Regions from separate parts of the Homo sapiens genome. Here all the other regions are linked to region 1. Evidence: fine-mapped expression QTL. A gene starts in region 1. Each other region holds a variant in brackets. All regions are shown on one strand. Distances are between the middles of the regions.

Evidence for each region. PIP is the estimated chance that this variant, and not a neighbour inherited with it, causes the effect.
Region 2: its variant is the best candidate, but not a certain one, in a credible set for the expression of C10orf143 in testis (GTEx, PIP 0.60).
Region 3: its variant is the best candidate, but not a certain one, in a credible set for the expression of C10orf143 in whole blood (INTERVAL, PIP 0.86).
Region 4: its variant is the best candidate, but not a certain one, in a credible set for the expression of C10orf143 in blood mononuclear cells (TOPMed, PIP 0.65).
Region 5: its variant is the best candidate, but not a certain one, in a credible set for the expression of C10orf143 in whole blood (TOPMed, PIP 0.54).

Annotation. Positions count from the first base shown.
Region 1 is chr10:130,107,979-130,114,242 of GRCh38, forward strand. C10orf143 (chromosome 10 open reading frame 143) reads right to left here and starts at 2,852. Exons shown (of 4, transcript NM_001355042.2): 1 at 2,726-2,852. The coding sequence starts at 2,794. It overlaps LOC102724883 (a long non-coding RNA gene), which reads left to right and starts at 3,315. Exons shown (of 3, transcript NR_188169.1): 1 at 3,315-4,138; 2 at 5,340-5,404. It also overlaps the pseudogene CTAGE7P. RefSeq lists enhancers at 1,057-1,316, 1,907-2,016, 2,177-2,356, 3,217-3,546, 4,027-4,156 and a silencer at 2,547-2,926.
Region 2 is chr10:130,037,057-130,043,320 of GRCh38, forward strand. It overlaps a transcript of C10orf143 not described here. Among named protein-coding and RNA genes, the nearest start is that of C10orf143, 71 kb to the right of the region's middle. The variant T/A (reference allele first, on the strand shown) is at 3,021.
Region 3 is chr10:130,081,831-130,088,094 of GRCh38, forward strand. All of the region lies in intron 1 of C10orf143 (chromosome 10 open reading frame 143), which reads right to left. Among named protein-coding and RNA genes, the nearest start is that of C10orf143, 26 kb to the right of the region's middle. The variant C/T (reference allele first, on the strand shown) is at 3,420.
Region 4 is chr10:130,069,499-130,075,762 of GRCh38, forward strand. The region is part of intron 3 of C10orf143 (chromosome 10 open reading frame 143); the gene reads right to left. Among named protein-coding and RNA genes, the nearest start is that of C10orf143, 38 kb to the right of the region's middle. The variant T/C (reference allele first, on the strand shown) is at 1,930.
Region 5 is chr10:130,062,277-130,068,540 of GRCh38, forward strand. C10orf143 (chromosome 10 open reading frame 143) reads right to left here. Exons shown (of 4, transcript NM_001355042.2): 4 at 1,620-2,107. The coding sequence ends at 2,078. Among named protein-coding and RNA genes, the nearest start is that of C10orf143, 45 kb to the right of the region's middle. The variant C/A (reference allele first, on the strand shown) is at 3,408.

The sequences.
Region 1 (6,264 bases):
CTTTGGATAAAATGGATGGGTCAATGCCTTCAGAAATGGAATCCAGTAGAAATGACACCAAAGATGATCTTGGTAATTTAAATATCCCTGATTCATCTCTCCCTGCTGAAAATGCAGCAACTGGCCCTCGCTTTGTTCCTCCACCTCTTGCCCTAATCAGAGGTCCACTGTTTCCAGTGGATACAAGGGGCCCGTTCATGAGAAGAGCACCTCCTTTCCCCCCACCTCCTCCAGGAACCAGGTTTGGAGCTTCTCGAGATTATTTTCCACCAGGGGATTTCCCAGGTCCACCACATGCTCCGTTTGCAATGAGAAATGTCTATCCACCGAGGGGTTTTCCTCCTTACCCTCCCCCAAGACCTGGATTTTTCCCCCGACCCCCACATTCTGAAGGTAGAAGTGAGTTCCCTTCAGGGCTGATTCCGCCTTCAAATGAGCCTGCTACGGAACATCCAAAACCGCAGCAAGATACCTGGCAATATTTTTGCTCTCTTCAAAAGTAATTCTGACTGATCTCATTTCAAGTAACTGCTGTTACTTAAGTGATTACACTTTTGCTCAAATTGAAACTTAATGGAATTATAATTCTTAGGATAGTATTTTGTAAATAAGGATGATTTAAATATGAATCTTATAAGTAAATTATTTCCATTGTATTTTATTCGATAGTATAACTATTTTAATTTGATTAATCCACTATTATAGAAACAACAGTGGGAGTTTTACGTATGTAATCTTGCAGGTGGGGAGGCTTTAAATTCTAAAGGCTGTGTCTTTATGCCAACAACTGTATTTACTGTAGGTGTAGACAAATGTGAAAGTAACTTTATGCTTAAATAAATTTTAGTTGATTAAAGAAATTCAGATAATCCACATGATAACCATTCAATCACTAGCAGTATTTGCCACGTCTCCACTAAACGTCTCAAAGTCGCAGAAAACACAGCATGGCCTAACAGGAGCTCTTCATTGCCTCCACACCACTCTTCTCTCAAGGAGCAGCAGTACTGCCCTCGCAGGGCTCAAGTCAACCCCTACAACACCCTGGACTCCACTCTTCACATTACCCTGCCACTGCCACTCCATCAGTGAGACTGTCTGCTCTCCCTCTACACAGTCACGTCTCTCTAGTGTCACCACCCCACTGCCCTCTCTTGTGCAAACCTCTGCCACTTCTCCTCTGACACACTACTGTAGCCACAAGCCTTGCCTCCCTGCCTGCACCCTGATCACACCTTTCATTTTCCAGGGCAGTGAAGTAAGGTCTCAACACATCAGCATAATCATGTCACTTTTCTGTTTGTTTTTCTGCCATCTGGTAGCACAGTAGCAGTGAGCCACCCTTGGCTATGCAGAGGAGGGTGACACCCAGGGGATGGTGTGAGGGGAAGGAACTTAGGTCCCCGCATATCCCCTGATCTGGGTACCACCAGCCCTACGCCTATATTTAGTGACCCTGGGCTCCACCCCACTGGACTGCTCACGTCCATGCTGTTCTGTGCAGGAGAATCAAACTTCCATCTTGTTAGGGCCAGCGTGCTTTGAAGGCTCTTGGTTACAAAAGCACCCTAACCTGCTATATTACTGTACTATACTATTACTATACTACATTACTATACCATATTATTACTATATTACTGGGGTAACCTGCACCCTAGTAATATAACAATTGGTACCTGGAGGAGGGGTGCGGCTGTGATAGAAACCTAAGTGGTACTGGCTTCACGGCCAGGCAGTGAGTAGTGAGGAAAGAGATGGTGCAGGGTAGAAAGCTAGTCATTCCCGCTACGCAGTAAAGACATCTAAAAAAATGCTGCCTGTATTAACTGGGAAGACGGATCCTGCACTTACCAAGCCTGTGTAGCTCTAGAAGAAAAAAAAAAGCAAATATGCGGTATGTTGGCTGCTCACTGCTGCCCCTAGCGAGGAACTTTGAAATAAACGAGGTTAAGTAAGAACTGGCCAATTTGCAAGCAGAGGTGGAAGATAAAATACAGGAATGCCAAGCAGCTCTGTCTTCCAGCTCCAATCCTGCAGTACTTCTTTCAGTGCCCCTAAGACGCTAAGCTCCTTCCTCCAACACTGTTTTTTGTCACCTCCCATCCTGCCTACCCCCGGTCATCCTTCAAGTCTCACACATACCTGACTTACCCACGCACCCTGGGATCTTGTGCAAGTCTCCCCATTACCATCTCATCTTACCCTCTGCTCATCAGTTAATGGACTCAGCCCAAGAAGCACTAACACGCTCAATGCCGGGTAATTTTCTGCGCGTGTTCGCTCCCCACGTACTCGTCCCCCAACACCCAGCCCTGGGCCTGGCACGTGGCAGGCGCTCAGTGAACGAGACTCAGGAACAGTCAGGTGTAGACGGCAGGAGAAGACATGACACGGATACCAAGCACCCGAGGTCCTGCAATGAGTCTCGGCCCATGTTTTAGGGAGCCTGGGTCTGGAGCCCCAGTGAGCGTGTGGGTCAGGAAGGTGCCCGAGCTCCGCGCCCGACCGCGCAGGCGCGAAACCGGGAGAGCGGCGTCACAACCCCGCCCTAACAGGCCACGCCCATCACTGGCCACGCCCTCCCAGGGACGTACGCGAGCGTGCGAGTGTCTTGGGCCAGGCCTCCTCACAGGCAGGGCCGCGCCGGCAAAAACGAGGCGCGGTGGGAACCCGCCCAGGGGCCATCCGCCCTCCCGTCCCTAACGCCCAGGCCCCGGGGGCTCACCACGTCCCCCGGAACCTGCAGATCCTCCGCCCTCCGCTGTCGCCAGCGGCCGAGCGCTAAGCTGTCCATGCAGCCCCAGGGTCAAACCCTCCCGGCATCTCAGGCCTGGCCGAGGCCCGCGCACCACGCCCCCTTCCGCACAAGGCCCTGGGGAGCCAATAAGGAGAGGGAGGGGCGGGACGCCGCGGGAAGCGCGAGAGCACCAAGGCGAGGACCGCAGGCAGGAGTAGCAGAGACCAGAGTCTTCTGAGACTATTGGGATGCTGTGGGCGTTGTCCGTCTGCCCCAAGTCATTACTTCGCAGAGAGGTCCCTGCATATCTCTGCTTGTCGCTTCTCCCTTCACAGGAGCAGCCGTGGGGCTCTAAAGAAAGCATTCTTTCAGGATCCCGCCAAACTTTTGACAACACCCCGTGGATCGGCTGGAGGAGCGCCCGCCTCCTCTGTCTTATGATTGGTTGTTAGGCCTCGTGGGGAGCCGTCTCCCTGTGGCTGGTTGGCTAATAGATGGCGCAGCGGGTCAATTAGCTTGAGCGAGACAGCGGGTGTTTCTGGGAGTTGTGGTCCGCAGGGCTGCCTCGCTTCCGGGTGGGAGCTGCTGTTGCCGCGGTGGGAAGACGCAGAGCTTTCAGGCCAGCCCCGCGCGGCTCACGGCTTTTGTGGCTGGTGGCTGGTGGCTGCTGGTTGGGAGGCCCCGGAAGGACTTCTACTCCTCCGTAGGCTGGAGGGCACTAGGAGGTCGCAGGTGCTGAGCTGCCGGGGCCTTTGGGCTGTGCTGAAGGGGAAAAGCGCAGCCACTGTCGGGAGTGTGTGCTGTGGAGGCAGTTGCCGCGGTGATGTTCGCTCCGCCTGGCCCCTGCCGGGGATTCAGCCAACCAACCCTCAACAGCCGGCGGCGGCTCAGTCTCTGGCCCGGCGCGGTGCTGAGCACCACTGAGCCCTCATCTTAGGGCACCGAGGCCCGGACTCCTGCAGCCGCATGTCCAGGCCCCTCCTGCCTTAGCACGGAGCTCCCTTGACTGCTCCAAACAGCCCAGACTGGCGCCTTTTTTGGATAAATTAAAACGGGGCCAATCCGTTGCCAGCGATTGGCTAACGATGGGTACACGACCTAGTACGGGCCAGGGAGAAGTAAGCGAGGTCTGTTGAGGCAGAGTTTCGGGAAAGATCTTCTAGTTAAAAGGGGAGTTGGGTGGGTGGGGGCTGTTTTCTTCCTGTTGTCCTTGCCCAGTGTAAGTTTCCTGGAGCTGCAGCAGCCTTTTTGTCACCATGAGGGCAGCTGGTGGGAACCCTAGGAAAGCAGGAAATCACCTAGAGCCGGAACAGCCTGAGCCTCTGAACCAACCCACAGCTGACTACCCGTCACTTTGTCGTGTCTCTGTGATTTGAGTCCATCATTCTGCTGCAGTTGAAGGTATCCTTTGACAAAGCCCTGTTCTTAACCATTATGGTGAAACGCATGAATCCCTCTTCGGGCTATTTGCTGCATGATCCTCAGCAAATTAAATAGTTAATCTCCCTCAGTTTCCTCATTTATAAAGGATAGGATGATAAAGCATAGAGATCGTGAGGATTACATGAGGCATTTACCTAGAAGATACTTAGAACAATGCTGGACACAAACTAAGTACTTAACAAATGTAACATTTCTCCTATTAGTTAGTACTCCTAAGACTAATTATGCCACCACTGATTCACAGTCCCTTATCAAAAACCTTTCAGGCCAGATGTGTTTGTGAAATTCAGAATTTTTTGAATGTTTAAAAAAGGTGAGATATATTGTATGCCCCCGTAGTCAAACAATGTTTCTATAGCAGAAATGTGTGAGTATTCACAAATATTCACCCTAAGTGGGATATATAAAGGTTGTAAATAGGGCCAGGCACAGTGGCTCATGCTTGTAATCCCAGTACTTTGGAAGGCCAAAGCGGGAGGATTGCTTGAACCCAGGAGTTTGAGACCAGCCTCGGCAACACAGTGAGACCCCCGTCTCTACAAAATAAAAATAACAAAATTAGCCGGGCACTATGGCGCCCACCTGTAGTACCAGCTACTCAGAAGGCTGAGGTGGGAAGATTGCTTGGGCCTGGAAGGTTGAGGCTGCAGTGAGTTGGCTGTGATCACACCACAGCACTCCAGCCTGGCCAATAGAGTGAGACCCTGTCTCAAATAAAATAAATACAATAAATAAATAAAGGTTGTAAATAGTCTCATATCAGTTCAAATGAGTTTACTCCAAGCGTGGGGAAAAACTAATTTGGAGGACTTTCTGCATTTCAGAATTGAAAATAAGGTATGTTGTAGGCCTCTCAAAATGCTTGTCTTGCAGTTTAGATTAGATGACTTGCTTTGTTACCCACTTTTGATTCGCTGGCCTTTATACTGATGGCTGCTTTTCAGATGTGTATAAGAACAAAATTTCAACAAATTTAGTTTCAAAGATCTGATTGGTTTTTAATAGCATTGCATGCACCAGGCAGTCTACAAGATAGAAAGGTGCTCCAATGAGGACCGAGTGGGTGAGTTTGACAGGCAGGAAAAAGTGGAGGAAAGCAGGAAGAATGAACAAATAGCAGATCAGTCATTTCAAGGTTACTTTCCTTATAGAGGTGTAGACGAAATCTTGGTGTAATGTAATTTGGCTTTCATCCCTCTCCTGATTTCTCAGAAGATCTTACAAGTAAGCAACCCAGGTTTCAGTTTGGTAGCATGAATCCTTAGCATTTAGTGACTCCAGTTTTGGTCTGCTGTCTTTCTTAAATGGATGCATGAGGCAACCATTGGGTACTGGGGGGGGGACTGCTTAGCTTAGGAATGAGATACAGCAATAGGTATATTTAGAAGGATGCAGTTTAGCTTAGCACAGTATTTACCAAGCATCAGTCACTTGGGTACTAACTGCAAGATGTATGCTAAACCTCTCCTATTATTTACATAGTATATTTATTTAAATTCTCAATATCTTAAGTTTGAAAAACTTTAAAAATAATATGTGACATCTATAAAGTGATGGTTTGAATGCTCACTATTTTAATATGTTAAATAGATTAATTATTAGAAGAAAATATGGGAGGTCAGGCACAGTGACTTATGCCTGTAATCCCAGCACTTTGGAAGGCCAAGACAGGCGGATTGTCTGAGGCCAGGAGTTCAAGACCAGCTGGCCAACATGGCAAAACCCTGTCTCTGCTAAAAATACAAAAATTAGCCAGGCATGATGGCGCATGCCTGTAATCCCAGCTTTTTGGGAGGCCAAGGCAGGAGAATTGCTTAAACCCTAGAGGCGCAGGTTGCAGTGAGTCAAGATCACACCGCTGCACTCCAGGCCTAGGCGACAAAACAAAACTCTATCTCAAAAAAAAGAAAGAAAGAAAAATTGGCCAGGCACAGTGGCTCCAGCCTGTAATCCCAGCACTTTGGGAGGCCAAGGCAGGTGGATCACAAGGTCAGGAGATGGAGACCAGCCTTGCCACCATGGTGAAACCCTGTCTCTACTAAAATACAAAAAATTAACCAGGCATGGTGGTGGCGGCACGTGCC
Region 2 (6,264 bases), 71 kb before region 1:
ACAAGCAGAATTGGACTATTTTGGAAAGCTTGGCCTCAATGGCATTTTAAAGTGCAGATGACACTGAAGAGTGCCCTTGGAGAAAGTCTGGGTGGGGACCAAGGGGACAGGGCGATGCCCTCTGCCCTGTGGGAGGAGATGGGTGAGCAACAAGGCTTCTTAGCATTGAAATTCACCAAGGCCGGGCCGCCGCTTCCGCCGTATGTTACATGTCAAAGAACACTTTTAACTAAGCACTGCCGCTTTCCTCCGGCTGACTTCACCCAGTTACTTACCCCAGTAACACTGCCGGCAGCCCACTTGCATCCTAGAGGAAGTACTGGATGAGCAAGCGAAACAAGAGAAGGCTCACTCCCAAGCCCATCGTTCACAAGCCCTGCCTGCTGTGGGTGGACCAGGGTGCCCGGTCTCCAAGGGAGTGGCCCTGACTCTGTCCCCTGTCCTTAGCATGTCCCTTCTTCCCCTCCAGCCACCCACCGAGGGAGGTGCCACTGGCAAGGTGTGCACACCCCAGGGAGGGCAGCCCCACCTGTGCATCCTGCTGAGGGCAACTGTAGCTCAGCGCCACTGAGGCTAGAGCCACAACAGGAGGCTGTGCACTCACAGGGACAAAAATACCCCAAGGAAATCAATGCGGGCCTTATTAATATCAGACCCATACGTGACAACTGTCAGACAATCGGTCAACAAGGGGCCTCGTGTCTGCATGATCCCAGCTAACCCACTGTGATCTTCATGAAGTGTCCTTCTGGGGGGTCCGGATCTTCAAATATGAGGGGAAGACCCTTCCCTTTTATTAGCAGCTAAGCTCTTTATACTTTTCCCATATTGCGGCAGGTTAGAAGTCTAAGCTTTATTGTCTTATGTTATTGAAAATCCAGATTCCGGCAGGCGTCTCCCTCAGGTCAAGCTTTGTCTGCGAATACATTCTCATTTTTCCATGTACAGAGACCGTCTGGAGAGGGGCAGAAAAAGATTATGACTGTAATATACTTAAATCCAATTTATTTGCCTGGCCAGAAACTTCCACCCTCCACAATTGCTTCCTACCCAAGATGCTTCTTTAATTCTTTCTTGACAGGGAGTAACATGCGGCGGCCTCTTCCAGCAGGTACAGGCACAGAGGGAGGCATGGACCCTGCAGCAACTGGGCCAGCAGGTGACAGGTGGCCTGAGAGAGAGGGCCAGCCGCTGACTGAAGTTTCGGGTTCGGGACTGCTCATTTGTGCATGAGAAGTGGGTCCTCAGTTGTATGTTGTTTACCGGGAGAGAAATGCAGTAAATGGAGAATAACAGGCCGTTGTCCAGGCAAGGCCACCCCAGCCTGTGGCTCCCTTGCAGGCCCTGGCTTACACTTCATCTCATCCAGGAGCATCTGTCTTGGGGGCCCCTGGGATGAGGGTGGGCCCCACAGCCTCACTTAAGGTCTTGATGAGCCTGTGTAACACTTCCCTGCAGGCTTACCTCTGATATAGGCTCACAATCCGGGAGGAAAATGGTTTCGGGGGATTATTTTATTAATTGGCGTTTGCTCGTTTTAAATGATGGATGTAAAGGGACTGCCAGGACAGACGGAGGTGTGGGCATCAAACACCGCCCAGGCCCTTCCCCACCCCCCAGGCTGAGCCATGCCTGGGGCCATCCTTGGCCTTAGCCTCCCTGGCTAATGAACCTGGGACTGGGCTGCCCTCCCAATTATCATCTGCTGGCCCTGCCTACAGCCCACCTCAGTGCAGCACAGAGCACAACCATTAAGCACCGACTGTGTATGCTTTTTCCTGCTAAGCTGGAGGAGGCGGAGACGGTAGCAAGGCCGGAGGGAGTGATGGGCCAGCAGGCTCTGACCACAGGGCAGGGGAGTGCTGCACTGGGCAGGGAGGACGCAGGGAGGGGCTTGACTGATAATGTGTGGAGCCACCGCTCTTCCCAGTTTGCCCAGGATGTTCTGGTATTGGTGCTAAAAGTCCTGCATCCCAAGAAAGGCTCAGCCTCAGACAAACCAGGACAGTTGGTCCCCCAGCAGCTGGGAACAGTGACACTAGTCCAGCCAGTGCTGCTCTGTCACCCCAGCAGCTGGGAACGGTGACACTAGCCCAGCCAGTGCTACTCTGTCCATCTGTGTATTGGCCAGTGTCTCCAGGGAAAGAGAACCAACAGGATATACACAGATACATGGAGAATGATTTCTTATGGGGTCGGCTCATGTGATTTTGGGGGCTGAGAAGTCCCACACTCTGCTGTCTGCAAGCCGGAGGCCGAGGACCACCGGTGGTGCTTTCCAGTCCAAGCCCAAAGGCCTGAGAGCCAGGGGAGTCCGCCACGTGAGTCCCAGTGTGAGTCTGAAGACTGGAAAACCAGGAGCACCAGCATCCGAGGGCAGGAGAAGATGGGCAGCCCAGATCAAGCAGAGAGAGCAAACGTGCCCTCCTCATCTTCCTGTTCTACTCAGCCCTCGATGAGGTGGATGCTGCCTGCCCACACTGATCTCATGAGTGTTTCATGCAGTCTCCTGATTTCAAGGCCTTTTCCAGAAACATTCTCACAGACACACCCAGAAATAATATTTCACTAGCTATCTGGGTATCCTGTGGCACAGCCAAGTGGACCCATAAAATTCACACTCATGCCCTGCAAGTCAGAAGATGCCCTGGGCCTGTTTCTCATTCATACGCTGCAGGTGGGGAGGCTGACCTCTGCCTCTAGGAAGGCTCCCGACGTCTCATGCGCTCTTCTCCTTGGGGCAATGGCCTTCCCCAAGGGTACTGTGGATGACTCTGAGGAAAGCACAGTGGGTGACTACCAATTTGCTGTCCCCAGAGAGCTACTGGGCATGAACCATTTAGGGACGTGGCAAATCACACAGCAATGTGCAGGGTTTGGGATAAGAAACTGGCCAGCCTGGGGAAGCTAATTCTGAAATCAGCAGTGGGAGGTCTGGAAGCTCCATTCTCTTGGTATCTTAGTGAGGATGCCCCAGGAGGGGACCTGTCCCCTGCCATTCTCCCTTTCCATGGGCTGAG[T/A]GCACTCATCAGCAGGGAACATGAGGAGCTGGGGTGGGAGTCATCTGAGCCTGGATGCCCCCTCCCTAAGGGAGTGCTGGGAATTTCAGCAGCCAGCATCAGTAGGCCTGGGATCCATGCCCCCAGCCCCCAGTCCCTGCTGGGCTGAAGGCACCCCAATCCCAGCTGGCCTGTTGCTGAGCAGTCCAGAAAGAGCACCGAGGACCATATCATGACATCTGCCTGTCCCCGTATATGGACAGAGCAGTCTGATCCCTAGCCTGCCGTGCAAGCGTGGTATGAGTTCTGGGTCTCTCCAAGGTGAAGATCACTCGAAGGCTTCTTTTGCAAAACGGCTTAGGAAGTGGATCATTTGGTTCATAAGACACTGAGTACTGAGTCACATTCTTCCTGCACATCAGAATAAGGCAGCAGCAAGTCTCCTGAGACTCTCCACCGCACCCTGCAGCCTCCAGACAGTGAAGCGCCTTATTCAAGAGAGTAGAATGGGACGGCGTGCTGGCTCACGCCTGGGGAGGCCGAGGTGGGTGGAGGTCAGCTGAGGTCAGGATTTCGAGACCAACCTGGCCAACATGGTGAAATCCTGTCTCTACTAAAAATACAAAAATTACCCGGGCTTGGTGGCGGGTGCCTGTAATTCCAGCTACTCAGGAGGCTGGGGCAGCAGAATTGTTTGAACCTGGTAGGCAGAAGTTGAGATCACACCACTGCAGTCCCGCCTGGGTGAAAGAGTGAAACTCTGTCTCAAAAAAAGAAAAAAAAAAAAGGTAGAATGAAGGGACCACAGTGGCAGGGCCTATGGCTCAGTGAGGGGCACCAAGGGACATGAGGCTTCAGGAAGCTACACTGGCCTCCTTGCTTGGGGAGCACTCCCGGGCATGAACCGGCATGGGAAGGGACACTGGATCTTAGTGAGGGCCCCCGCCACCGGCACTCCCAGACCTCCAGGAGGCCCTGACAGGTGGGTGGGAGGGGCTGCGCCATCCTAATGGTATCACCTCTTCCCTCCACTGAAGGGCAGGTGGGTTGAATCCGTTCTACTTCTCAGGAGGCCAAGCTCCTGAACGGCCGTCTTGCCAGGGAGAAGCTGTGTTTGAGATAAAATGCAAAGCAGCGAGCACCTAAATACCGAGGCTCTGGTTCCTGAGTCCAGATGGTTTCCACAAACCTGAACTTTTAGGCGTGTGGACAGGTATCACCAGCTTGACCTCTACTGAGTCCCCTCCGAAGGTCAGGGGACAAGGCTGGGACAGCAGCTTCAGGCATGAATCTAAGCTCAGAGTCAGTACCAAGGAGGCCATGATGGACCAAAAAGCAGGGGCATTTCAAATAGTGATAGGTTTTGCCAAATTTCTTCCACAATGATTGAAACTCTTTTTTCATTGCTACCAATGGTGACTGAGTGCCTATTTTCCAACATCCTCACCAGCACGATTATGATTTTTAAAACATGTTGCCAACTTGATAGTAAAATGATATATCATAAATTCGATTTGCATTTTTAACTTATGAGTTTTAACACTTTTGCTGTAGCCAAAATTTGAGAGGAACTTATGTGTCTGTCAGGGGGATAGCAGCTATGTGAATTACTGTTCATCTTTTCAATGTAGCAACACATGGCTTTTAAAATGATGAGTTCCATCTGTGCTGATGAAATGTGTCCATAGGAAACACTTTCAGGACAAATTAAGTGAAAAAAACTTGTAGGACTTTTATGTATAATTTTAATAAGCTCTGCACACACACACACACACACATGCATGTACACACATGCACCCATGTGCATACTCTCACATGAACACGTGTAACACACACACACACACATGCACACACTCATACAATTACATATGCCCTATGTGTACACATAACCACATATGTACATGCCCATGCACACCCTAAGCACACATTCACATGCACACTCATGCACATTATGCATGCACACACGTTCATACATACCCAAATATGCACTTGTGTACACACGTGCACACCCACACATGCACACTATGAACACACAGCTACACATTCATGTGCACACCCATACATACACACACAGACAACCCCAGGCAGAGCTCTGTGGGCTTCATGTGGGAAGAAGGGAATGATTATTACTTTCTGATTCAGGGCTAGACTGTTTAGGCTAAATCAGAAAATGTGCATAGAGTTATCACGTACATGGAACGATCATTCTGCAAACGTTAACCACTTTCACGCCGTTTGTTAGCTAACTTAACTGACAAAGGAAACATATTAGAAGAATAGAAAATCTGCTAATTTGATTAAACTTACATTCTTAGAAGAGTTTGTGAATGGATAAATATGACGAAGTTCCTTTGGCTCACTTCCTCAGAAGAAACATTGTGATCGATTTCACCATCGTTTTCTCAAACGGTCTCAGTCCTGGACAATTAGCTGGCGTGTTTGCTGGTTGGAGCGCGGAAGCCCTTTCTGTGCTGCCCAAGGCAGCAAGCTCAGCCCCTCGGATGGGAGACCTCCCTCAGCTCTGGCCCACCCCTCCTCGCGGGCATCACTCTACTGTTAACACCATGGGCATCTGAAATCAGTTGTTTGCTGTCAGGTTTGGATCCACCTCTCCGTCCTTTGATCCAGAGCTGCCGAAAGCCACATACTGTTTTCATCACCTCAGCCAACGTCTGGAGAGCCTATATTCGTATAGCCAGTGTGAGAAAGGTGGAAACTGAAAACACAAGTAGGGAAAGCAACGCTTGGAAAGGAGGTGGGCCGTCACGGCTTGGAGGAAACTTGAAAGTGAACTGAATATCAGACTCTATTAAGGAATTATGGATCATTTTGTTAAATGTGTGTATCAGTCGTGGCAAAATACCCTTATCTGTTAAAGACACATACTGAGGTATTCAAGGTGGAATTACGGATTACCTTAATACACTCCAGGAAAAAACTCGGAGACAGTGCGGAAGCAAGCCTGCAAAACGCTGATGCTCACTGCAGCTGGGTGAGGGGCGTGGAGGCTCACTGGCCTAGCATGCTTGAGTATGTTTGAATTTTCCATAACAATATGTTTTTTAAAATAAGAAAGTTAAGCAGCTGATATAATTAAAACACCAACAGATGAGACAATGCTGCCGTAAGTCTCAAGGTTACCGCAGGGAATGCTTCATAACCTAAGTGTGTTTTCCCAAGGAGTTATACGGCAAAAAATTGATCATCATTACTTATAAACATGCTGGTATTCCTGGAAAATTGAAGAGAACGCGTTAACATATTA
Region 3 (6,264 bases), 26 kb before region 1:
CAACATTATAAAGATGACAGTTCTCCCTAAAAATTAATTTGTAAATTCAATATAATCCCAGTAAAAATCCCAGTAAACTATTTTATAGAGTTATACTAGTTGATACTAACGGTCACAATGAAAAACAAATATGCAAGAAGAGCCAGGAAAACCCTGAAGGAAAAAATAAAACAACTCCTGGACACGAAAACAAACCATAGACACTCCATAATTAAACACAGTGGCACACAAGGAGACAAACAGACCAGTGTGGTAGCATTAAAAGTCCAGATATAAATCAAAATATATATGAAAGTTTGGCTTCAAATCACTGTGATAAGGATGGACTTTTTATACATACATATATGATCTTCTTTTTTTTTTTAGAGATGAGGTCTCACTATGTTGACCAGGCTGGTCTCACACTCCTGGCCTCAAGCAATCCTCCCTTCTTGGCTTCCCAAAGTGCTGGGATTATAGGTATGAGCCACTGTGCCCAGCAGGATGGACTTTTTAATATACGGTCCCAGGACAACTTGGAGCCATTTGGAGAAAAGAAATTTAGATCTGCACCTCACACCATGACATGGTTTGGCTGTGTCCCTACCAATCTCATCTTGAATTGTAGCTCCTATAATTCCCACATGTTGTGGGAGGGACCCAGTGGGGGATAATTGAATCATGGGGGCGGTTCCCCTACACGGTCCTCGTGTTAGTGAATAAGTCTCACGAGATCTGATGTTTTATAAGGGGCTTCCCTTTTGCTTGGTTCTCATTCTCTCTCATGCCTGCTGCCACGTAAGACGTGCCATTCACCTTCTGCAATGATTGTGAGGCCTCCCCAGGCACACAGAACTTTGAGTCCATTAAACTTCTTTTTCTTTATAAATTACCCAGTCTCCAGTATGTCTTTATCAGCAGCGTGAAAACAGACTAATACAACCACATACAAAACCAAACCAGATGCATTAGGGACCTGAATGCAAAAGATCTAATTATAAAGAACTATGCAATTCCTAGGAGAAAATACAAGTGAATTCTCTAATCTTGGTGTAGGGAAAGATTTTCTAACTATGATTCAAAATACAGAGGCAATAAAATCAAGATTGACAAGTTTGACTATATGAAAATAAAAACTTCTGTAAGGCCAAACAAACAAAAAAATCCTAAACAACATCAAAAGATAACTGATAAAAGGGGAAGAAAAATGTTTGCAATATATACCACAGAAAAAGGGTGAATAACCTGAATATAAGAAACTGTTACAAAAGCTGAGCAAAAAAGGACCAAAAACCTGAAAGATAAATGGAGAAAAGACATAAACAATTTAAAAAAGCTATTAAAATGGTCCTCAAACATGAAAAAAAGTGTTCAAATGCACTCATATTTAAAGAAATACAAATTAAGTCAACATCAAGATATCATTTATCATCAGAATGGCAAAAATTGTAGAATGTGGTGTAGCCCCTGTTGGTGAGGCTGCAGGAAAACAGGCACCTCCTGCTTTGCTGGTGAGAATGCAAATTCTTGCAGGGAAATTTGGCAATACAAAGCTATATGCACATTTTTTAACCCAGCAATTACAACTCTAGAATCTACCCAAAACATACACCTCCAACGATATGGGAAAAAAGCACATTTGCACAGTTATTCAATAGTGCAATATATTGGAAACAACCTAAATGCCCCTACACTGGAGAGTGGTTGGATAAACTATGGTACATCCAAGCAACGAAGTACTAGGCAACTGAGAAAAGGAAGAGGAAGATTTCCATGAACTGGTCTAGAGTGATTTCCAGAATACATTGTTAAGTGAAAACAACAAAGTGCAAAAGAGTATCTATAATATGCTATCCTTTGTGTAAGAAAGAAGGGGTTATAAGAAAATGGACACTATCTGCTCATTTCTGCAAAAGAAATACAGGAAGGATATTTGAGAAATGAAAGAGACTGCTTTCCTACAGAGAGTGGATAGGAAAGGGCTGGGGAACAGGGTGGCATGGGAACAGAAATGAAGAGGGAGTGTAGAGCTCTGCATTAAAGCACCAGAGTAACATTTCACATGCCAAAAAGTGAGGGAAAAATGTAAGTAAACCAAGACATAGGGGGAGAGGAACCCAAGTGGAATACAAAAATAATGAACCTAACTACATTACAAATAAGTAACATAGCCACACTGAAAAGAACTACCCCAAATAACTTTTAAAAATACTATTTTGGGCCAGGCATGGTGGCTCATGCCTGCAATCCCAGCACTTTGGGAGGCCAAGGTGGGCAGATCACAAGGTCAGGAATTTGAGACTAGCCTGGCCAATATGGTAAAACCCCATCTCTACTAAAAATACAAAAAAAAAATTAGCCAGGCGTGGTGGCAGGCACCTGTAGTCCCAGCTACTTGGGAGGCTGAGGCAGGAGAATCACTTGAACACGGGAGGTGGAGGTTGCAGTGAGCCAAGATTGCACCACTGCACTCCAACCTGTGCAACAGAGCAAGACTCCATCTCAAAAAGAAAAAAAAAACTATTTTGACTAGAAACTCAAACGCTAAATAAAGACGACAAAAAGCACTGTATAGAAATCCTGTACTCTAGCTAGTAAATGTGTTTATTACAGGGTTAGCAATTTTTGAAATTACTTTATTGGCATTGGATAAATAAGTAAATACACTGTAAATAACAAGAGCAAAGTTTCTCACTGTTTAAGAAATAAGCTACAAATACAGAAAAGGGAGAGGCTACAATGAACCCAGTGGTGTTGCATTAGAATTTTTAATACATATCCAGACAGAGATATAGAAATATATAAAGATATGTATGTGTGAGTTACTGTGTGTGCAGGTGATACACACACACACACACACACACATACATATATATATCCTAGCTGTGTCCACTAAGGACAGTGGCATCCTAGTAGCAAGATTACACTTATCACCTAGAAATTGGTTTCGAAATACCATTTTCCCTTAAAAGGAATCTGGACTCCATGGGAAGCAGCTGATTCAGGGAAGGAGTAGGGAAAATACAAGATGAGCCTCAAACACTTCATAGGCCAAAAACTTAGAAAGTTCTTGTAAAATGAGGGCATGTCAAAAAGACAAAGGCATACACCTGAAGGACTTCCTGTTGGCCAAAGCTGGAATGATTTAAGCAATAAAATAAATAAAAAACAGCACTGGATAATCCACAGAATAAAGTAAATGCCTATTAGTCTACCCATATCAAAAATAATTGAGTAAATAAATAGCTGAAAAGGGAAAGGACTTCCTTACAGTTGAATTCTAATTAACAAATGCAAAAGGAAAGAAGGAAATACATTAAGTAAATACCACAGTAAAAATTATTGCAGGCAAGATCTAATAATAGATGCTAAAATTAGGAGGCAAAAGTTTAAGGAGAAACTGGATGTTTGCACAGCCTCAAACTATCTTCCCCAAGATT[C/T]GTATTAATTGTAAAGAGAAAAATAGTAACTTTACCGTGGATAAAACCATCGTAATCAAGTGACAAGGTTAACAACAGCAGTAATGGGACACAATACCATGAACCCTCCTCCGTACAACGTACCAAGATGGCACAACATCACTTCTGCAGTACTCATGCCAAAAATGCGCACCCTGACTCTAATCATAAGAAAATGTGGGACAACAAAATAACTAACCAATAATCACTAAGTGTCGAGGTCCTAAAAGACTGTCAAAGTGTCACAGATTGGAAGAGAGGAAGGAAACACAATAACTAAATGCAATGTGGGATCCTGGGTTAGATCTTGCAACAGAAAAAGGATATTAGAGGAAAAACTGGTAAAATGGAATAAGGTCTATAGTTAACAGTACTACACCAACATTAATTTCATGGCATGCTAACTATACTAAGATCATTAACAAGCTTAAGTGAAGGATGTATATGAACTCTATACTATGTTTTTGCAACCTTTCTGTATGTCTAAAACTATTTCAAAATAACAAGTTTTTTAAAATGAAAAAAAAATATCTTGCATCCCTAATGTGAGAGAAATACTGATCTAAACCAAATTGCCTTCTCACAACCTCAACCCACTGTTTCTAATTATTCTCCTTTGAGCAACATAAAATAAACAAAACCCCTTGTGTATGAGATAAACATTCAGATATTTGATGATCATTCTCAGACACTTTGGAGGCTTGTTCTCTCCAACCAAATATCCCTAGTCTCTCTCACTATTCCATTTCAAAGATGTTCTTCAGACTCTTCATATCCTAGACACCCTAGTCCAGTGTTTCTAAATTGCCAATATCCCGCTTAAAATAAACCACGCAAAATACTTTCAATGCCATGTAACTAGCAGAGTAGAATCACCACTTGCCACTGTGTTTGCACAGGAGAAACCCACACTAGGTCAACAGCCCCAGCAACCACATCACACACAGGTCCATGCGAGCTCACCTCCCCTGCAACCCCCTCAGCTTCTCCACACAAACGTACTCTCTCATTCCTGGGGCTTATTAAGTCGTCTTTGTCTTCCTCTTTTTCTTCTTTTAATTTAACTGTAGGCTCTCCTATGTACACTAGTTAAATCTGATTTCCATGGAATATGTATTTGATTTGTAGCATATCAAAATATATTCAATCCTTATTCTGCCATATATTACAGTAATCGTATTAATCATCCTTAGGACTTTTGCAAATAATGCAGCCTTCTATGTCTTCACCTAAGTTGGATGACAGTTTGAAGAACTAAGACCAAGGCTTTCAATCTCTGGTTATTCAGGATCTGCTCAATCCTTACAGTGCAAAAGGAGGTGTGTTATGTTAAAACTGGTTTGCTGTCAACTTTCAATCACCTGGATTAAAGGGGAAAAGTGGAAATATTAAGTATTCCCCACATAATTTTACAAGTTTCAATTTTCCCCCATCAGTAACACCATAGTCGGCTAATAGCAATAATATTATTTCCCTTCCTCTTTTCTCAATAACACAGGACTTACTCAAAAGGAAAGCAAACAGGCATGCATGAATATGAATGAGAACCTGTACTTTCTGGATGAAATTTACAACACTTATGAAACTATATTCTACACCTTTTCTGTGTGGTTGAATGGCCCTTGGCACATTAAGGTCAGCAGACTTGTGATTATCTGCAATGAAAAGCTGACATTCTTCAAGGGGCGCAGGGGGCTGAAGGGCCAGGGTCCCGACAGCCTGTAGTAGGAGAAAGGAGAGCCAAGCCATACTCTGCCACCAAGGCGAGCAGAGTGTGGGTTCTAGTAGGGAATGTGAGGATGACATCTCAGTGGCACTCAGCCAGCACAGTGAATTAATTTATTCATATTTTCTGTTACTTACTGTGGATTATTGAGAGCTGACCACATACGATACTGATCTATACACTTACTTGGGAAATAGTTCAGTTGTCATGGATGGGCCTGGACCAAAGAAAAATGACTGCCACAGAGGCATTTACATCTGGGGCTGCTTACGTTGAACGAGAAGATCTGTCAGCCTTCGCAAAGGCAGATGAAGGCTTATGCCAAGCTAAAAAGACACTTGTACTATATGAACGAAATGAAAATCCTAAGTATACACAAGGACCCCATTACATAACAATAACTAGAATAGATCAAGTGACCAGCATCCTCATCAGAGAAAGGTGAAGCAGGAGCGTGGCCGAGAAATAGACGCTGTTTCAAACGATGCTAAATTAAAATAGCAAACAGGGATGGTGCTGCCTCAATGATAGAAACACACGAAGCTGCCACAGATCTCAGGAAGTCTTGCTGCCTGTCCTGAGGAGGCAAGACCAACCATTTGTTGAGGGGGACTTCTTCCTTTTCCGGAGGTGATGGTCCCAAGTGAGCTTAATGAGTGAAGTGTCTATAAGGGATAGGGGGTTGAAGACCTAACAGTTTGCCAGAGATGAGATTCAAAGCTTTGGTTTCTGTGCTGAGAAGAGCCAGCCCTTATATGAACCAGACAGGGGACATCTCCCCAAAGCCCCTAGAAACACACAGCAGAGCCAGAGAACACGGAGCAGGGTGAGCAGAGCCCAGCGCCAGCTCTGCCACCGGTGGGGCTCTGCCATGCTGGCAGCCTCCGCTCTGGGCTCAAGAGGAGGGTGGAGAATAGAGAAGAGGCATGGTTCTCTGACCTCTTCAACAGAAAAGCACCACATACTCTCTTCAGTCAGCAAAGCAAGAAAATGGCACACTCTTCAACATCAAACACACTGAATTAAGCATATGTATTACATGTGTTAACACGTGAGCGAGCATATGAGTTAAGCAAATATACAGCAAATTAACATACCAAA
Region 4 (6,264 bases), 38 kb before region 1:
TCTTCTAATTGACTGTTACCAGTAAGTAAGAGTCTATCTATTTTTGTGTGTTCATCTTATATTCAACAATCTTGCTGGATATTAGTTCTACTAGTCTATCTGCAGATTTTCTGGAAAATTTTTTTTTTAAGAGATGGGGTCTCACCCTGCTGCCTGGGATGGAGTACAGTGGCATAATCATAGCTCACTGCAGCCTCCAACTACTGGGCTCAGGCAATCCTCCTGTCTCAGCCTCCCAAAGTGCTGGGATTATAAGCATGAGTCACTGTGGTCAGCCTTGGATATTCTATGTAGATAATTATACCATCTGGAAATAACAATTTAGATTTTTCTCTTTCCAATTCTTATGTCCATTGTTTCTTTTTTTTTTTCTTATCACATTATGCCAGCTAGGAGCCCTAGCATACCGAGCAGAAGTGCTAATAGCATCCTCGTCCTTTTCTCTTCAACACAGATGCTTCCACTAAGTATCACGTCCTTAATTTTTACCAGAAGAAAGCCTTCTATTTCTGGTTTGTGGAGTTTTTAAATATATATCATGAATGGGATTCGCATCTGACTGTATGCTGTTGCTGCATGTAACAGATGATCTCTATTTTCCCTTTTATCAGACAATGCAGTCATTTTTCTAATGTTAAATCATCCATGTGTTCTTTCATACAGGGTTTTTAAAATCTGTAAAATCCCTGTGATGGGAGCTTTTTGATAACCTTCCCAGATCCTTCCATTGTTACTGATCTGATTCTGTTCTCTGTTCTTGAGTCAGTTTTGGTAACTGAATTTTCTGGGGTGGGGAGAGGAACCCCACTGCAGTGGCCATCGCACCCCCGGACCTGGTGCAGCCTGTCCACATGCACGTCACAGTGCAGTCCCCTTAGCAGCTCAAAGATGCATTCCAAGCTCTTCTGGCATCTATTGCTACTAATGAGAGATCTGTTGTCAAATTATCATCCCTTCATGCTTAGCCAGTCATTTCTCTCTAGCAGCTCTACACGTTTCTCTGCCTTTGATGTCCTCCAGTGTCATGATGACCTATCTATGTGTGGATACATCACACCCAAGACTCACAAAACTTAGGGGATAAAACATTAGATATCACCAAAACACTGCACCCTGAGCCCTTCCACTCAGTAGAAATAACGCCCTTATTTTGAAGTTGTTTACCACTCTCATAAATGTTTTTATTCCTTTAGTAGATATATATCAATGTTTCCCATGCTTAAAATTGTATCTAGATAGTATCATTCTACGTAGATCCTTCTGTAATTTCCTTTTTTCTCCATTTGATTTGATCCATTTTCACTGCTCTCTGTAACACTTCATTGAGTAAATCTATTGCAATTCATTTATTCATTCTATTGATGAACATTTAGGTTGTTTCTGGCTTTTCTTACTCTAACAGTGCAACAACAAATATTTTGTTTTGTTTTGTTTTGAGACAGAGTCTTGCTCCGTCACCCAGGCTGGAGTGCAGTGGTGGGATCTTGGCTCACTGCAACTTCCACCTCACAGGCTCAAGTGATTCTCTTGCCTCAGCCTCCTGAGTAGCTGGGACTACAGGCATGCGCCACCATGCCTAGCTAATGTTTTTTGTATTTTTAGTAGAGATGAGGTTTCACCATATTGGCCAGGCTGGTCTCAAACTCCTGACCTTAAGTGATCTGCCTGCCTCAGCCTCCCAAATACAACAAATATTTTGTATACACTTTCTTGGGCATCTACTAGGGTATACACCTAGGACCATATCTTCTAGCTTACCAGAAATGCCCACCATAAGCTTTACCCATGTACATGGCTTCTGAGGAAGTGAACACATCCTTTCACTCTACCTCACTCACAGTTATAGCACCATTTTTATTTTTGCTAATTTGATGGTTTAATTTGCAAGCCCTTAAATTACTAGTAAGGTTGAACACCTATTTATATTTA[T/C]TGGCTATTTTGGGTTTCCTCTTCTCTGAACTGCCAGGTCATATACTTTGCCCATTTATTTACTGGACTGATTTGCATATTTATTCAAGAAACCCATCTTTATATTTTGTGCATTGTAAATATCTTTCCTGCAAAAAGCTTTTCTTAGACAATGATGAAAGAATTCTGATATGTAGCATGTCTTAATATATACAGTTATATTCTATATTTTTTTTTTGAGACACAGTTTCACTCTTGTTGCCCAGGCTGGAGTGCAATGGCACAATCTCGGCTCACCGCAACCTCTGCCTCCTGGATTCAAGAGATTCTCCTGCCTCAGCCTCCCGAGTAGCTGGGACTACAGGCATGCACCATGCCTGGCTAATTTTTTATTTGCAGTAGAGATGCAGTTTCTCCATGTTGGTCAGGCTGGTCTTGAACTCCCAACCTCAGGTGATCTGCCCACCTTGGCCTCCCAAAGTGCTGGGATTATAGGCATGAGCCACCGCGCCTGGCCGTCATATTCTATATTTTCTACTAACAATGTTAAAGGTTTTTCTTTCATATATAGGTTCTTATTAACTCCCACCCCCACCTCCCACCTCCTAGAATTGATTTTGTGTGAGGCAGAGATCTAATTTTATCTTTCCTCATATATGGATAACTAATTGCCCTGGCACAATTTATAGGTGTATGTAAATCTCATTTATAATGCCTTCAAACTGCCATATATGCATGTTTAAAGATCTCAATTTTATTTCATTGGTTAGTCTACACTTAGGCCAATTAACACATTGTCTTAATGGTCACAGCTTTGTAATATATCTTGATATCTGATGGATAATTTCCCTTGCTTGTTATTCTACTTCAAAATTGTTTGACCACATATGCCTTTCTTCAATTCTGGAAAATTCTCAGCCATTATCTTTTCAACTATTCTACTCAAACATTCTCTAAAGTCCTTCCTTCTGGATTTCCTAATGGGCATTCTCATTCTTTCCTCTATGACTCCTAATTACACTTTTATACTATCCATCTTTTTATCTCTCTTGCTGTGCTTGGGGGATTTATCCAGCTCTATCTTCTAATTCACTAATTCTGTCTTTAACTGTGTCTAATCTGATGACTTTTTAAAAAAACTTCAATGAACATATCATGCACTTTTAGTTCTTTTTAAAAAAACCTTCCAATTTTTTTTCAAACTGTCTTCCTTTCTTACTATGGCTCTATTTCTTCTTTAATCATTTTATAAAATAACTACAGGATACTTCAGAGACATGGCAGGCTTGGTTGCAGAACACTGCAATAAAGTGAGTCACACAAATTTTTTGGTTTCTCAGTGCATATACAAGTTTTGTTTACAATATGCTTGTAGTCTATTAAGTGTGCAACAACATTCTGCCTAAAAATATGTACACACCTTAATTTAAAAATACTTTGTTGTTTTAAAATGCTGACACAGAAGCATGAGATGAGGATATGCTTTTGGGACAATGGCACCAAACAGACTTGTTCAATGCAAGGTTGCCACAAATCTTCAATGTGTAAAAACCACAGTACCTTCAAAGCACAATAAAGTGAAGTGCAATAAAATGAGTTGTGCCCGTACTTTATATCCACCTTCAGGTTCTTCAATTATTTCAGATTGTTAGAGACTTTGATTCTACTGTTTATTTCTTGACCCCTCTTCTCACCATGGTGGTAGATTTGTTTATGTGCTTATTTTTCTAGTGTGATCTTATCCTCCGTGGGGGTTGTTTTATCTCCAAATCTCCTACACACTGGGTGGTGGAGGCATGCCTACAGGACAGTTCTGCACCTGCTGCCACCCAAGGCCTTCAGGACTTCAATGGGCTGCAACTGTTTTTATGGCAGGGCTTCTACTTTTGGTTCCTGTATGACTGAGATAAAATAAACTTGGAGCCCATACCCATGCATGGCCTGGTATTGTAATTTCCAGTCCCCTTTTAGGGTACAATCAGATCTTCAGGCTCTAAACTTTATGCAAGGATCCAAATTCTAGCTCCCACACCTTTGTTAGGCCAAAACCACATCTATCTCTGGACGTGAGCATTCCAGTTCCCAGCCCTGGGTGCAATCTAGGACCAAACCCAACAAGTACCCAGACCCAGGAACGGCCACTAAAGAGTGTGTTGGTCCCAACGGCACTACTTTTGTTTTCTCTCTTCGCCTATTACGTGATCAGCTGTGTGTTTTTTTTTTATCAGAGTCTACCTTGAGTCTCTGCAGCAGGAGGGGGACACATCTGTGTTGGTTTTATCTAACATGTTTGTAGGAAGTCTAAATTGAACTTGTTTCTTTTTTCTTCTAGTCATCTGAAGCCCCTCAGCTCCTTCAGTGCCAGAAAATGACCTAAATAACAGTTAAAAATTTTTTTAAAGGTAGTTTTTCAATATCCATATTCCAGAGAAAGTACTCACTGTCAGCTACTGCTAGATGCTAAATCTGAAGATTTTGTCAGTGGTCTATTCATACCCATCTATTCTGGGATTCGTATTTGGCTATACTGACACAGCCAGACTCTTCCATTCCCAGCTTATTCCCTCACAGTGTGAGTAAATCAGCCCTGTGTCTTAGCCAAGAGCTTCTCACTGTGTCCGGGGATGAAGTCCACAAAAACCCGCACTGTCACTGCCACAGTTCTCATAGGGTGTTCGAGCCTGACGCTGGGCCGCCAGTCTTGGGGAGTGATGCCGGCATGCTGACTGCAAACACACTGATCAGCCAAAAAGAGCAGAAAGCAGAGGGGGCTCCAAGCAGAGTGCTCAGGCCCCTGCCTCCCCATCAACCACGGTGCATGGCAGTCCAATGGCTTAGCCCCTGGGGACCTCACTTTCCTTATCTGTAAATTGACAGGGTTAGACCAATGAACTCCAGGATCCTTGACAAACCTGGGGGTAGAAATGCATGGAGCACAACTTGATTCTTACAGAATGATCAATGAAGTTCCCGTTGATCCCTCCATGATTGTGTTTTCTTCTCTCAGGACAGAAGAAGAAAGAACTGACAAGGATGCTTGCTATCAGCTGTGGCCGAGACAGGACACAAAGAGCAGGGCACTGCGCATCGATCTCTGTTCATCGATATCAGAACGTTACATTTCCATCTTTGGTCCCGTCCCCAGCTTGACACTCGGACCCGCCCTAGCAAGCACAGGCAGTGTTCTCAGCCGTCACTGCAGGCACCAGAGGAGGGCAGAGATCACTGGGTTCCAAGGCTTCCTGTTCTAGTGCAGTATTTATAGATGATGTAGGTGTAGAAAGCAATGACCAATAATGTACAAATATGTAAACAAAATAAACAGAAATACTTTAAAGGTAACCCATTTGGAGATAAAAAGAAATACAAAGAAAAAATGCATCCATTTAGAATCAGAATAATCATACTTTGGCTCCTCCTGGTGTCCCTACAAGGGAAAACTGAACCAAAACAATAGGTTTGGACCAAACACCTCCCTTCCCCTGCCCTCAATTTCTACTCCTACGTTGGCTGACTCCACACACACAGACATGCACACACACTACATATGTACACAGACACACACATGCACACACACCATATATACCACACACACAAATGTTGTCAGGCAATAGATTTCAATGTCAAAAAGTGAATAATACGGAGGCTTATTAAGACTGCTCCTTTGCTATTTGCCCTCAATGAAAAAAAAAAGAAAAAAAGATAAGGCTAATGACAATGCTGGTATCCAGAATCAACGTGGGGAGCGGAGACTCCATGGCACCAGGAAACACCATGTTTTGCATGCTGGCTTTTCAGTGGTAACTCCCTACCCGTTTGAGTAATAAAAACCAATAACCACAGATAAAAGGCAGCGAAGGAGCATTAGCGATGGGCAACATTGAAGGGCCTGACTGTATTTTTAACTTTCATGTCCAGGCTCTCGGGACTCATGTGGCTTATCACCAGGATCAGCCCTGCCAGCACTCTGGAGTGCCAAGCTTGCGGACTACTGACTGAGCCCTTGCAGGGGACAATACAGGCCCGGAGACCTCTGTTAGAAACAGCAACTTTCCTCCCCAGGAGAATCTGTCCATTCATTAGCTGATTAGCGCTGGTAAGAAAACAGAAACCAATCTAGGTATATTTCAAACAGAGGGACTGTAACAAGATTTGGCTACACAAATGATGGAAGAGATGAGAAGCCAAACGGGGGAGCTGATATGGTTCGGCTCTGTGTCCCCACCCAAATCTCATCTGGAATTATACTCCACACATGTTGGAAGGGAGCTGGTGGGAGGTGACTGGATCATGGGGGCGGACTTCCCCTTGCTGTTCTCGTGATAGTGAGTTCTCATGAGATCTGGTTGTTTGAAA
Region 5 (6,264 bases), 46 kb before region 1:
GTCAACTTGATTGAAGGATGCCAAGTATTGATCCTGGGTGTGTCTGTGAGGGTGTTGCCAAAGGAGATTCACAGTTGAGTCAGTGGACTGGGAGAGGCGGACTCACCCTCAATCTGGGTGGGTACCATCTAATCAGCTGCCAGCTTGGCCAGAATAATGCAAGCAGGAGAATGTGGAAAGACTAGACTGGCTGAGTCTTCCAGGCTTCCTCTTTCTCCCGTGCTGGATGCTTCCTGCCCTTGAACATCGAACTCCAAGTTCTTCAGCTTTTGGACTCTTGGACTTACACCAGTGGTTTGCAAGGGCTGTTGGGCCTTCAGCCACAGACTGAAGGATGCACTATCGACTTCTCTACTTTTGAGGTTTTGGGACTCAGGCTGCCTTCCTTGCTCCTCAGCTTGCAGACGGCCTATTGTGGGACCTCACCTTGTGATCATGCAAGTCAATACTCCTTAATAAACTCCCCTTCACATATACACTTATCCTATTCTGTCCCTCTAGAGAACCCTAATACACCCACATTCTGGCCAGTTACACCTCATCCCTTTCGTCCTTGTCACCTGGGTCATCAGGTTTTGTGAGCTTTGCTTTTCCAGAACCGAAGGCCTGCTTTGGGGTGGAGGGGCTGTGTACCAGGAGGGAGGGCACTGACACTGAGGAGTCACACTGTGGGCTAAGGGCAAACCCCAAGGGCAACCTCCCCACCACACAGATGGGAACCAGAGGCTCCAAGAAGTCTAAGGACTCATCAAGGTCAGGTGGAGATGGTCGGTGGAGATGAGATGGGAACTCACGTCTGTCTGACTCTGAAGCGGGGGCATTTTCCTTGGGGCAGGAGGATGCCCGGGGACTGTTCTCTACAAAAGCCAGCTTCGTATGAACAGCTGGAGGGACGCGTGCCACGTCAGCTACAAAACACCCACCTGACACCGGGTGGACACCTGCTCTCTCCATGAACGAGGGTGAGAAGGAAGAGTTTACACACAAAAAAGAACATGCTGTCCATCTAAGAGTTTTCTTTTTTTCCCGTAAAAATTAGACGTGTATCTCATTTTGGAAAAGAGAAGAACAAACTAAAGCTCTTCATAAAGATCTTTCGTAAGGCTACAAACGCCAATACCTTCTCCCTCTTTCCCGGCTTTGGTTGTTTGGCACGAACTGGCATTTTTTGATCGAGTCATAGCTCTGGGATCTTACCCAGGCTTAATGAAGACGTGTCCTGTAATTCTGGATCATCCATATCCCAGGTGGTGCTGTACTGGTTTCAACACCTTGTCTTCCTCTGCTCCATCTTTCCCGTATGGAACTCTCCCATGACCGAATGCCATGATGACTTATAGAGGGGGCTCTTCCCACATCAGTGCCGAGGACACTCCCTGGAGGGAGCACATTCCCTGCAGATAACGTGATGCGGACAGGAGCTTACAAACAGGACATCTCAGGAAGCTTTCAAACCCAGAGAAAATAATGCCAGCCTCACAGTCAGACGATACATTGAAAACCCAAGAGAAAATGAGTAATTTCCACTTGAATATAAAAGGGATTCTGTCTCTGATAACTTCAGTTGGGGAACAGATTGGACACTAGCATTTAGTAAAATTCACTCCAAGATTAGAACATTTTAAATATAAAAATAAGCCTTTTAATGAAAGAGTGTGTAAATAGCCCTGGGTACATCCACAAAACAACGAAAAAGCATGATGGCGGGGCTGCGTCTGGGTGGGCCTCCATAGGCCATGAGTGCCCAAGCTCATAGGAAGTTTGATACAAAATTTTTTGACTTGTAAATAATGCAATTGATCTCCCTCTCAACCAGGAACATTCGAAAGGAGGCTGTAGTACGTAGTAAGGATTTGGGGGCTCTTTTGAAGTGATGTGGATTCTCCTGGCTCTCGTGCAGAGGATGGTGGATTTACTAGAATGAAAGGACAGACAAACCTCCCCCCACCCACAGAGGACACCGGGCTGCTATTTGAACAGGTAAGTCCCCAAACCCATCTGTAGGAGATTCACATTTGCTGCAACATGAAGGGTTCAAAACCAAAACTGGGACCTTCTTTTTTCCAGCTTGCATCTTCTAATGATTCTTGGTATGGCTAAAATGTCCCTACAAAGATAAAACAGCACATTGCGGGAATTAATTTACCTTGGCCAAATTAATACACCTTGGCTATATATACATTTGCCAACACAAAGCACTACATTTAAAATGACTACTTGTAAGTGATAACTTAATTCCTGAGGTATCTGTTTATAGATATATTAATATATATTACATTATAATTAAGATATTTAAAGCATTTCCAGTAGTGACTGGTACACAGAAGACTTTCAATAAATGTTACTTCCCTTCTTTCCTATAGTACTTTGAGGAATAGCAAGAGAATGAAAATACTATTCATATATTCATAAAATAAATTTTTAAAAAAATGTCTAAATATTGAATCAGGATTCAGCACAAAAGCAACACAAAAGTGGCTCCTCTCACCAGGGACATCCGGGAGTAAGAGAGGCTCACGGCAATCCCCACCAGGGCCCCTCCGGCCCCCAACCCATTTCCTAGAGCAGGCCTCTCATCTCCTCACCTTCACCCGCAGAAGTAACTGGGAGAACCAGATGGCTGGGGATAGACAGTTGGCCAGACACTGTACCACTGTGCAATGAGAGGCTCGTCAGCATCTAGGAATCTCTGTCACACTTGGCCACATATCCTGGCACATAGCAGCGTGGCACTCTGGCCCACAGGCAGAGACAGGCACAGCCTCCCTGTCCTGAAAGGACTCCACCATCAGGGCAACAGGCTCCTGAGCTGGCTGCAGCCCAGGAAGGGTGGGGTAGGCTGGGCAGTGGGGAAACAAAGAAGTCCAGTTCTTGATGATGTCCCTGCTTCCTGGAAGGCAGGGGCTGCCCTGACCCACAGGGACCAGACAGGAGAGACTCTGAACTTGCCTGGAGGGATTATCAGACAGCAGAGTACTGACGTCAGATACTGATGGCTCCTTCGAGTGATCAGAACGAAATGCTACAGGAGCCAGGGAAGACAGCACGTGACCCTACCTGGTGAGGGGCCTGAAGAAGGCTTCACACAAGACAGGAATCTCGGGTGGGCCACGAAGGAGCAAGAGAATCTTTGGAGGTGGGAAGGTATACCTCAAGCAGTAAGCACAGTACAAGGTCAGACTGTTCCAGGATCGGAGAAGCTGTGGCGGCTGGAGCAGGGGCTTGTGGCGCACATGGCAGGGATGGGAGCAGCTGTCTGGGAGGTCAAGCAACACTGAGATTTGAAGGGCCCTGGATGCCATGGTGAATACAGGTGCTGCATTTACTCAACAGGCCTGCGCTTCCCAGAATATTCCCAGAATCACATGTGTAGCAGGTATCCCTTTACAAAAGGACATTTTGGAAAC[C/A]AGTTTCTTCATGCAATTCTCGAGGTCTTTCACAGTCTAATGGACATCAAGTCTCTAAAAGGCAGGGGAAAGTATGTAGCATTTCCTGAACTTCTCTGGACAAGAACCTGTTCTGTTGGGAGACTCTGAACGCAGGAGCCCAGCTGGCAAATCACGGCTCTGGGCTGTGCACTGAAGGGGCAGAGTCAGTGGAAGCCTGGGAGGCTCACTTGGAGGTGCCGTGGGGTGCGCAGACCCAGGAGGCAGCAGGCGTCTCTTAGGGAAGAGACAGGGGAACTGCAGGGAAATGCTGTTTAATTCATTTCGTCATCACCAACCACAGAACTTGAAAAACACAATGATTTCTTTTTTAAAAACAGCTATTCACTGAGGTGACTTATTCCTGACGCATCCTTCCCTGCTCTGTTCAAGGAGGGGTATACCTGGAAGACATGTTTGAGACAGAAAGGATAAAACGTGGGGACAAAGAGCCACATCAATTTGAGGACTGAGACCTGGATTTTTTTTTTTTTTTTTTTTTTTGAGACAGGGTCTGGCTCTGTCACCCAGGCTGGAGTGCAGTGTCACAATGATGGCTCACTGCAGCCTCAGCCTCCTAGGCTCAAGAGATCCTCTCATCTCAGCCTCCTGAGTAGCTGGGACTGCAGGTGCTTGCCGCCACACCTGGCTAATTTTTTTTTTTTTTTTTTTGGTAGAGACAGGGTTTCATCATGTTGTCCAGGCTGGTCTAGAACTCCTGGCCTCAGGCGATCCACTCGCCTTAGCCTCCCAAAGTCTTGGGATTATAGGTGTGAACCAACGCAGCTGGCCAAGACCCAGAATCTTAGACACAAAGGAACCTTTAGAAATTGCTCTTTAGACCTTTTGCCCCGGTGTGATCTCAAGCCCCCGCACCATTCTACTCTCTCTTAGACACAAAGGAACCTTTCGAAATTGCTCATTTAAACCTCTGCCCTGGCATGATCTCAAGTCCCCGCATCATCCTACTCTCTCTTCTTGACACGTCCCAGTTTGTCTCTGTCTCTCTCAAAGCAAGCAGCCCCCAGTGACACCCAAAGAGAAGCCTCGTACTGACCCCAATCTAGACTGGGGCTGGGCCAGTGGGACCTCAAGTCATCAGACTCTGGGACTCACAGATGGCCCACACCAGCCACCAGAGGCAGGTCTGACGAGGAGCATCAGGCTCATTGTGCCTCGACTGTGAGTCTTACTGCAGACAATTAAAATGCCTTGCCTCCTGTTTGGTCAGGCTTGAAAAGTGATTTGATCAGCAATAATGGGAAAACCCTTTTCCACTTTTGGTAAAACACAATTCCACGGAGCAAGAGAACGATGTTTGTGAAGAGGGAGTTTTTATTTGCTTCTAACCTTGGAATGAAAAGGGCCCAGGGCCAGCTGCTTCTGGTTGCACCTGCTGCCCAGCGCCTTCTCCTCCACACCCTTGGGGCACACGTGTGTGGCCTCAGCCCTTCTTTCATCTCTCACTGCAACGGCTTCTTTGTGGGGTTTGCCACCACGCATGAACTCCCTCAAAACGTCCCCCTTTCCTTTTTGGAAGCCTTCCTCGCTGGGCTCTCCATGACCTCTCTGTGGAGCCGGAAGGACAGCAGGGCCAACAGGGACACACCTCACTCCATCTGGGACCATTACGTGAAACACCCAGATTGATGCCCTCACCTCTGGTACATCTAGCTGCAAGTCATCCCTGTGGACTGGGGGAGGAGAGAACTGCACCCCACATCTCCTTCCCTTTTTGCTGAAGCCATTTTTCCTTAATGGGCAGAGCCCTGGCTGTGGCTAGCTCTCTGCTTCTCCCCGAGTACCTGTGTGACAGGATGACAGCAGCCCTCTGTGGGTTAAAGATGTTGACGATTCCTGCCATTACCATCTGCCAGAGGAGTCATTTTTTCTTCCTTTAACAGCATATTCGTCTTTACTACCACAAAACACTGTCCCTTCTCAAGAGAATTCTACAAAGGCCTACAGTAAAAGCTTGGACCTCTAAGACAATCATCCGTCTTTACCAGCATGCATCTTTGTATGATGAAATGTCTTTAGAGCACCTGCTGTGCCCTGTGCCGAGGGACACCTGTCACACCCTTGCCTCATCTTCCTCCCTTCCTTCTTGGAGGCGTCAACACTTGAAAGTGGGCGTGCACCCTTCTGTACCAGTCATAGCCCCAACAGGAAACAGATACATGGGCGAACAGGAGACCTCACAAAGGGGTTATTACAAAAGGATTTGTCACAAAGTTGTCCTGGGAGCCGCGAGGGACAGTGCAGGGGCCAGACCCAAGGGATAAAGGGCAGCAGCGGCTACCAGAACCTGGAAGGAGGAGATGACACATGCTGCTGAGTGACACTGGCCAGGGGACATGGCCACATACCCTGCCCTCGTTCTCCAGCCTCCTGTTGCCTGCCCCAAATCCCCCTAGCGGCTGAGCCCAAAGGGAAGTGGGAGAGCCCAGGTGCCCCCGGCACCCCCTGGATGTAAGCCATGCAGGCTGGCCTCCTGTGCAGATGCCAGGAAAGGTGGGCAGTGGATCTGACCTGGAAGGGCAAACAGAACACAAAGCCCAGACATGAACTTACCAGAGACTTCACCTCAGCCATTTTAAATATGGTCAAAGAACTAAAGAAGGTCATGGCCGGGCACGGTGGCTCTCGCCTGTAATCCCAGCACTTTGGGAGGCCGAGGTGGGTGGATCACTTGAGGTCAGGAGTTTGAGACCAGCCTGATCAACAAGGTGAAACCCCATCTCTACTGAAAATACAAAAGTCGCCAGGCATGGTGGCACACACCTGTAATCCCAACTACTTGGGTGGCTGAGGCAGGAGAATCGCTTGAACCTGGGAA